Linked DNA regions of Homo sapiens: region 2 is linked to region 1. The links come from fine-mapping of genetic effects on gene expression. A gene starts in region 1. The other region holds a variant in brackets. All regions are shown on one strand. Distances are between the middles of the regions.

Evidence for each region. PIP is the estimated chance that this variant, and not a neighbour inherited with it, causes the effect.
Region 2: its variant is the best candidate, but not a certain one, in a credible set for the expression of SAP30 in whole blood (TOPMed, PIP 0.51).

Annotation. Positions count from the first base shown.
Region 1 is chr4:173,368,499-173,372,895 of GRCh38, forward strand. It overlaps SAP30 (Sin3A associated protein 30), which reads left to right and starts at 2,456. Exons shown (of 4, transcript NM_003864.4): 1 at 2,456-2,999. The coding sequence starts at 2,685. It overlaps SAP30-DT (SAP30 divergent transcript), which reads right to left and starts at 2,200. Exons shown (of 4, transcript NR_183973.1): 1 at 1,794-2,200; 2 at 936-1,112. RefSeq lists enhancers at 1,677-1,916, 3,000-3,563, 3,267-3,566 and silencers at 2,317-2,486, 2,767-3,146.
Region 2 is chr4:173,266,284-173,270,680 of GRCh38, forward strand. All of the region lies in intron 2 of GALNT7 (polypeptide N-acetylgalactosaminyltransferase 7), which reads left to right. It overlaps MIR548T (microRNA 548t), which reads left to right and starts at 1,877; the gene lies at 1,877-1,950. It overlaps LOC124900812 (a long non-coding RNA gene), which reads right to left. Exons shown (of 3, transcript XR_007058367.1): 2 at 1-4,397. The variant C/T (reference allele first, on the strand shown) is at 2,522.

The DNA.
Region 1 (4,397 bases):
ATATTCTCATTTTTACCACTTAAGAAAATGTATCCATAAATATATAACATGTATCCATAAATATATAATTATTCTGTGTTGTAATTTTTTTTTTTTTTTGAGACAGGGTCTCGCTCTGTTGCTCAGGCTGGAGTGCAGTGGTGCAATCTCAGGTCACTGCAACCTCTGCCTCCTGGGTTCAAGCAATTCTCCTCCCTCAGCCTCCCAAGTAGCTGGAACCCCAGGCTTGTGTCACCATGCCTGCCTAATTTTTGTATTTTTAATAGAGACGGAGTTTCACCATGTTGGCCAGGCTGGTCTCGAACTCCTGACTTCAGATGATCCACCCTCCTCGGCCTCCCAAAGTGCTGGGATTACAGGCGTGAGCCACCACGCCCTACTGTGTTGTAATACTTTAAGCCAGTGTTATCTAATGCAACAGGTACAATTTATTGTAATATTTTGTTTAACCCATTACATCCAAAACATTTAAACATATATAAAAATTTTTAATGTGCACTTCAATATTCTTTTTGAAAATTTCTTGTAGTAAGTCCAGAAATAAAAAAAAAGTCCAGCTGATATATACTTACAGCACATCTCAATTCATATGCTAAAGTTAGAGTTCATAAAATTTAAGTTGGAAAAACAGATTCATATATCTGAGTTGTTGCAAACACACTTAAAAGTATTCCAACAATTGAATCGAGCATCAGGTTTTTGGTTTTTGTTTAATTCAAATTCAATTAACGATTCAGTTTTTCCGTCTCAACCACATTTCAAGTGCTGAGTAGCCACATATGGCTAGAGGACAGCCTACTGGACAGCACAGCTTAAGGAGGTACACAATGTACTTATCAGTCATCATCTTTCTTTTTCCTACTGAATTTACGTAATATTTAAATTGTTTTTCTTTGTCATATCCTAGAACTCAAACGCACAGATACAATGGATACCTTTGATTTTCTGCGTCGATGGCATTTTGCATTTAAAAAGATCATCTGGGTGGGGTGGCGCGCGTCTGTAATCCCAGCTACTCGGGAGGCTGAGGCAGGAGAATCGCTTGAACTCGAGAGGCGGAGGTTGCAGGATCGCGCCACTGCACTGCACTCCATCCTGGGCGACAGAGCAAACTGTCTCAAAAGAAAAAAAAATCATTTATCACTAAATTTACTCACCAAAAGAACTTGCAAAAAAAAAACCCAAAACCCTACTGCCTAAAATATATTTTAAAACGTATTTGTGTTTAAGCAGCATATATCTTTTGATAAATAATGACGCATGGTAGCTAACTAGTAAAGATGCAGCTTTCATATTAGCCACGCCCATCCCTCTCTCCGCCCTCCACAAGCACGTCCCCGCAAGCGCGCAGGAACATACACGCGTACGCGCGCACACACACGTACACACGCGCGCGCCCGCGAACACATACATACAAGCAGGCGCGCCCAAACGCCGGCAGCACACAGGCGCGCACGCGCTTTTCAGGACTCAGGAAATGCGCTTTCTGCTCCCCGCGCCCGGTAGAGCTAATGCAGGGAAGTTTCTGGGAACATTCGACCAGCGTTTGTATTGGTGAGGTTCCAAGTTTCCTTTAAAATGATATGACTCCGCCCTTCTCCAAAACCGTTTGAGGAGAAATGGAAAAGGTTGGGCGTGGAGGTGAAAAGGAGCCCTGTTGTCAACTGGTCCGTACTCCACCTCAGGAGGCGGCCAACTTGGTGCGCCCAAGAATAAAAACATTTCCCTTGTAAGAACATGCAAGTGTTTAGAAACGCCCCCCCACCCCCCCGCAAGGCGTTTGTGAGGGGGACCTGTCACAGTTGAGAAGTCAGGATGGGCGTTTTCCTCCCAGGAGGTGCCCTATTAATTTGCGGCCTCGATAGTTGGTCAAGCCGGGATGTTAGCTGCGGAACCTCCAGGACCGAAGAGCGCCAATTCTCCTGAGTTCTCCTTGGTTTGGGTTTCCCACAAAAGAGTGGTCACACCAAAAACTCTGTCTCCACAAATGCGAAACGGGCTCGAAACTTTTTTTTCCCCACACGATCACTTCCCACACCACTCCCATCCCTTTATGTTTCGCCTCAGGAGTCGAGGAACTTCTCTGAAAACCAATTCTACGATATTCCAGCAGCTAAACACAGCCCGAATTCCCTAGAAACAGAGAGAGCGAGAGAAAACACTGTAAACCCCAATCACACGCTCCTGTTTTCCCGGTACTGAAAAAAAAAAAAAAAAAAAAAAGTGGGTCCGTGGCCGCGCTATGCATGCTAGGATTAGTAGTTCCTCCGTCCCTCATGGCGCGGGGTCAGGGCGGAGCTCAGGTTGACTCTGCAGCAGAGAACTACAATTCCCATGGGGCCGCGCGGCAGAAAGAAAGGGGCGGGACGGGAGGGGGCGCGTCGCGCTTGCGCAGGTCCCGGGGCCGGAGGGAGGCGGAGGCGTAGCGGTCCAACTGCTGAAGTCCCCATGTGACAGTGAGCGGGGTCCCCGCTCCAGGAGACGCTCGAGTCTGCGTCCCGGCCCTCAGCACTGTCCACTGTTTCGGTGCCAGCAGAGACCAGCAGGCCCGGGACAGTTGGTGTTTGGCCGTGCCGCTGTCTAACTTGGTGTGCAGAGTGAATTGCCGCTGCCGGAGCGGAGAGAGGCGGAGCGGCCAGGAGAGAGGGGATTTCTGTCAGCGCCGGCCTCGGGAGCTCGGAGACATGAACGGCTTCACGCCTGACGAGATGAGCCGCGGCGGGGATGCGGCCGCCGCAGTGGCCGCAGTGGTCGCTGCCGCGGCCGCCGCCGCCTCGGCGGGGAACGGGACCGGCGCGGGCACCGGGGCTGAGGTGCCGGGCGCGGGGGCGGTCTCAGCGGCTGGGCCCCCGGGGGCGGCCGGGCCGGGCCCCGGGCAACTGTGCTGCCTGCGGGAGGATGGTGAGCGGTGCGGCCGGGCGGCAGGCAACGCCAGCTTCAGCAAGAGGATCCAGAAGAGCATCTCCCAGAAGAAGGTGAAGATCGAGCTGGATAAGAGCGTAAGTAAACCGCGGGACCGCCCTGCCCTCCCGCCCCTCGGTGGGGCCCCAGGAGCCGGGCAAAGGCACGGGTTGTCGGCGGGGTCCCCCAGACAACCGCACTGGCTGCAGTGCGGTCTCGTGGAGTCTGTGTTTGGAAGCAAATAACAAAGTCGCTGCAACTCCTACCGCCACCCCAACACACACACCACACACAGGCTGTCGTTCCCCTCTTCTTTCCCACCCTGGCCCCCAACCTCCCGCTGCCTGCGTCTCTCCCGCGCAGTCTTCCCTCTTCCTTCTCCTCTGCGACCGGGACACGAAACAAAGGGGACCGGCGCACTGAGGGCCCAGAGTAGTTTTCTTGCAGCCCGGCAGCTCTTCTGGAATGGAGGCGCCTTTGTTTTGCTGCCCAAGCTGGTGTTTGGCCCCAGGCGGTACTAAATCCCGTCGTCTAGGAGAAAGCGGAGGACCTTCACGAACAAGGAAGATCCTGTTCTTTTCTGTGTTCCGTCTCCTCCGGAGCGGAGTGAGAGGGAAGCCGAGCTCACCCGCCGCCTGGCAGTGAGCCGGGGTTGTAAACGGCGTTTGCGCTGTCAGCTCCGAGGGCAGCTACTCCGATGGTGGGGAGCACGTAGCCTCTGCGGTTTTGCCATCCCCTTGGCAGCCATCAGGATTTTTTGCACGTCTTTTCGTTTGACCATCTATGAGGTTTTTAGAAACAGCCGTTGCTACTTTTGGGAGATCTGGCTAGCGGTAAATGAATAACATGGTATCGAGAACCTACCACAAGTCCTGCATATTTTTATCTTGCGCTTGGCTTAGAAGTAAATGTAAAAGCCTGTTAGCTCAGTCCGTGTTTGTTTCAAATGCTAGTCTACAGCTCGCAGGAGTATATGTAATTAAAGTTTTTGAAAAGTTTATTTGTGACACTTTTTGCCCGTTTAAACAGTTTTCAGTGTTATCCATGAGAAACTCTTCAGGTGAACTTGCATAATTTCAGATTGTTTTGGAAAAATGTGTTATAGATAAATACATTGATTTAATATTCAGAAAAATGTATAACTGAAATTTAAATATAGTTTTGAAGTCGATGGCTCATTTGTGAAAACGAATGGTTTTGTATCTGGACTATAATTTGGGTATTCAGTTAGAAAGACTGGAAAGCATACATTATATTACTAAAATATGCTGTTCTTTTAAGTAGAGAAAGTACTGTCAAGTAGCAAAACTGTGAGCAACATCATCTTTCCCCTCATCAGTTAAAAATTCAACATGAACTAATTCAGGTCATCCTTACTGCTATCTGTTTGTTTATTTATTTAAGACAAAGTCTCACTCTGTTGCCCAGGCTGGAGTGCAGTGGCGCGATCTCGGCTCACTGCAACCTCCAACCACCAGGTTCAAGTGATTCTCCTG
Region 2 (4,397 bases), 100 kb before region 1:
AAAAGAATTTTAGAACTGAAGGGGGCCAGAGGGGTTCCTTGGTACTGTGAGAGATCCCTCACTTTGTGGATAAGGAATCCCAAGTATAAACAGTATGTGATCATCCAGGATTAAATTAAGTGGCTGAGAAGAATGAATCCAGGTCTTCTAGGACCGACCTTTCACTATACCAGACAAAAGAGCACGAAAGTGTGTTGATCAGAGCAGTAGTTTTAATTGTAGTATTTTTGATACATTTGTGAAACATTTTATAGTAATAAAAATTTTTACTTAGGAGCAAAAGAAGTATGTTATCAATCCCAAGGTAACTCTTTTTAAATGTGGACATATAAAATTCCAATTATATGTAGAAGGGCCTCTGCTTAAATCTAAGTTGTAAGAAGTTATACTATTAATAAGAGAACAGATATAAAAATAATAAAATCCTGCCATTTTCGGCAACATGGATGAGCATGGGGGACATTATGTTAAAAATAAGCCAGGCACCGAAAGACAAGTATTGCATGTTCTCACTCACGTGGAAGCTAAAAAATTTGATCTCATGGAGGTAGAGAGTATAATGACGGCTACCTGAGGCTGGGAAGGGTGTGTGTGTGTGTGTGTGTGTGTGTGTGTGTGTGTGTGTGTGTGTGTGTGTGTGTGTGGAGGGCTGGGATGTGGGATAAAGAGGGGTTGGCTAATGGCTATAAACATACAGTTAGCTGGAAGGAATAAGTTCTAATGGTCAATAGGACAGCAGGTGACCATAGTTAACAACAATGTATTGTGTATTTCAAAAGGGCTAGAAAAGAATATTTGGGATGTTCCCAACACAAAGAAATGATAAATGTTTGAGGTGGTGCATATCCTAAATACCCTGCTTTGATCATTACCCATTATATGCATGTATCCATATATCACATGTATCCCATAAATAGGTACTATTATCATATATTAATTTTTAAAAGCCACCTTAGTATGGCCTAGAAGTAGAGGATCAGTGTTGAGGGTATGGGCAAAATTTACCATTGTACCATGCCTGTCACTTAGATCACCCTCCAGCCTGGCCCCTGAAACGCGTACCTGAATGCTAGGGAGATACACTGAAAGAGCATTCCATTAAAATGCCTGTCAAACTGAAGGATGGCAAATTTCTGTACTTGAGGGTTTGTGGACACCCATAGGCAGATTACCAGCCAGTGGCTTCTGCAGCGCCAGGAAACCATGCCTGGGCACAGACCAGCAAATGTCATCAGCAATGGCCATTCCTTAGAATAGGCACAGCAGGGGGACCAGCTTCACAGGACCAGGGGCCCCTTTGCAGCAGAGTCTTCACCTCAGCAAGCAGAGCTCACAGAAAATGAGGGGTGCTGCATGGTATCCGAGAGTGCCAAGTTCATAAATACACATGAGGTTCACTTTGGGAATCCCATACAGAGCTGAAAGAGTGATGAGCATGATATTGAGCATTTAGGGAGCTTTGGTTTCCTCTTCTAGCAATTGTGGATAATAATACTTGGCTTGTAAAGTTATTGTGGGTAACAAATGTGCTAAAGGACATAAAAGGCATATCACACATGAGCTCCACCGGTTGGAGGTCACAGTTGTTGGAGGCCACCTTCATCCCTTGTGTGGCATAGAGAAGCTTCAGAAGCTCTTTTTTCTGTATAGGCCTCTCATCATGCCAGGTGTGTGGTATTCAGCCTTATCTTTAAAATATGGTACCCTCTTCATTGTATTTCATCCTGCCGTCTTACTACAAAAGAGGAGGAGTCCTAAAGGAAGTTAGTAAATACAAAGAAGTTCTTAAGGTCAACCTAAGATAAAGAAATGCTTGCTTGTAAGTGCTGGGTGATTGAATCTATAATTTGCGTCAAGAGAAGTGAAGAAAAATGTTAGGGTGGTGCAAAAGTGATCGTGGTTTTTGCAATTTTTTAATGACAAAAACCACAATTACTTTTGCACCAACCTAACCTTGTTTTAGGCATGTATCTATTTAAAGACACTTTATTTTACCTATAACGTTGATGGGTTTACATTGAACTCAGGGCCAATAGCACTGTAACTCGCACCCAAACAAAGCTTGTCTCACGTGGATTTTCTGCACAGGACACAGCACAGCATCTTTGTGCTTAGGATACCAGGTAGCACACTGACATTATTCTCGGGAGGCTGTTTTAAACAGCAAAATTACCAACTAAAAGCACAAAAATGAGAAAATCTGTGGCACCAAACAAACTGCAAATAGGACACTTGTTTTCTCTCTCGTTTTTTTTTTTTTTTTTTTTTTTTTTTGAGATGGAGTCTCGCTCTGTAGCCCAGGCGTGGCGCCATCTTGGCTCACAGCAAGCTCTGCCTCCCAGGTTCACGCCATTCTCCTGCCTCAGCCTCCCGAGTAGCTGGGACTACAGGCGTCCACCACCACGCCCAGCTAATTTTTTTTTTTTTTTGTATTTTTAGTAGAGATGGGGTTTCACCGTGTTAGCCAGGATGGTCTCAATCTCCTGACCTCTTGATCCGCCCTTCTTGGCCTCCCAAAGTG[C/T]TGGGATTACAGGCGTGAGCCACCGCACCCGGACACTTGTTTACTCTATGAGCAGAAACAAGAAACAGAACATCCTCGTGTGCATGCCCATCAGGCATCTCCAATTGCAATCCACATTTGTGGACGTAGAATCCACAAATAATAAGGAGCCACTGAATTTTTGTATATTTAGTATGGGGCTCAGGTTAATCACAGAAATATTTACTATATAGTTAGTGGGCAAAATGCCCAGTACCCCATTATAATAAACCCAAATCTCAGTAACAGTGAAGATGTTTCTCAGAGGGGCATGGCTCCTCTGATGTTTGTCAGATAAGCATGTCTTATTATAGGGGCACTCAGACAACAGAGGCACAGAACAAAACAAAATATTTTTTGTCTGTTAATTTATTTCAAAAATGAAATCTGATAATGGCTTTTAGAAATGTGAAGACCAAAAAGCATCAAATTTTGTTTTTCCATTTAAGGAATAGAAATAAAGTGGCCGAGTTATTATTATATGTTCCGCCCATAATTCATCTTTCCTTGCTCCTTCCCACCCCTCCCCACTTTATCTTCCACCTCCTTTTATAGATACCTAACTGCTAAAATGGGCTTGGGAAGGCAGCTGGAATCATGCCAAGGTGTACCCAACAGAAGCTGCTGCAGTTAGTGACATGAGCTATGGAACACAGGAGGTCTTTTGCACTGATTGGAATATTTATTAGATTTAGTGCTGAAATAGTCTCTGCTGATAAGCAGACCTAATCTGAATTTCAAAGGTCCTTATGACCACGTAAATGTGATAGTATCATATCCTCAGGCCCCAAGTGCATCACCTTTCCTAAATGGTTGGATGCTGTATTGAATCTATTTAATATCCTGGTAACTAGCTTTGACTTTTTTCAGGAATACTTAATAATTTTAGATTTAATCTTCCCTCCTCCTCCTCCTCCTCAACAGAAGTAATTTAAATTCTTTCCAAGTAGTCATTGCACCTGTTTCTTACTTCAATCTTGGTCTCAAAGAAATATACAACAAACTCCGATAGACCACGGCCATAAAGTCCAATTTTATAATCATGCAGGAAAAGGAATGCTTCTTGAGGATCAAAAGTTGCAGTCATGATGCTAGGATGTTTCATATCCAGTAAAACTAGAGACACCCCACCTCATCAGCTGATTGTGGGAGAAGTCGTTTACAAAAGTCCTGTGAAGAAAGAACTAGATGATATAAATGTATGCATATTTCTAGAACCTGAAAAATATAAAAAGATAATCAAGTGTACTTGGACCCATAGCCACTGGTTTTAACCATTCTGCAGAAGTATAGCGCAATTATTATTGGCAATATGTGAAGATATGGATGATTTCATGGGGAAATCTTTGAAATTAAAGTGGGATAATTTGGAGGTACAGGGGAAATGTTTTTCCCTTTAAACTGTGGCAATAACCCTTGTAATTGCATGTGCTCTCCAGAATAAAGATATAGCAGATTGACATCAGCTTCAGAAAATGAGACATTAGGTACCTGAGGGATTCAGTCAAATTGCTCCTATGAAATCTTGAGTTTTGAAGATTGAAAAAAAAATGCTTGTTTTTGTGACAAGTGTTTTGGGGAATATTTTAGGGGATAATTGATGTTCTGCATTCCAATACCTTAGGTAATGAGGAAGCTGTGGAAACAGCCTCCTTTCTTTTATGAAGGCTTTCGTATTCAAGATCACCATAGAGGTCAGTGCTGTGAAGCTAATCTTGGACGCCTATCTCAATTGCTTCAGAGTATTTAGGATTTCTAAGGTTTTTGATGGATTTTTTTCATCAAAAGATATAATTTTTCCTCCACATGAAATGCTTTAAAGTGGTGATAATTAAACATATTTACTCAGTAATATTTG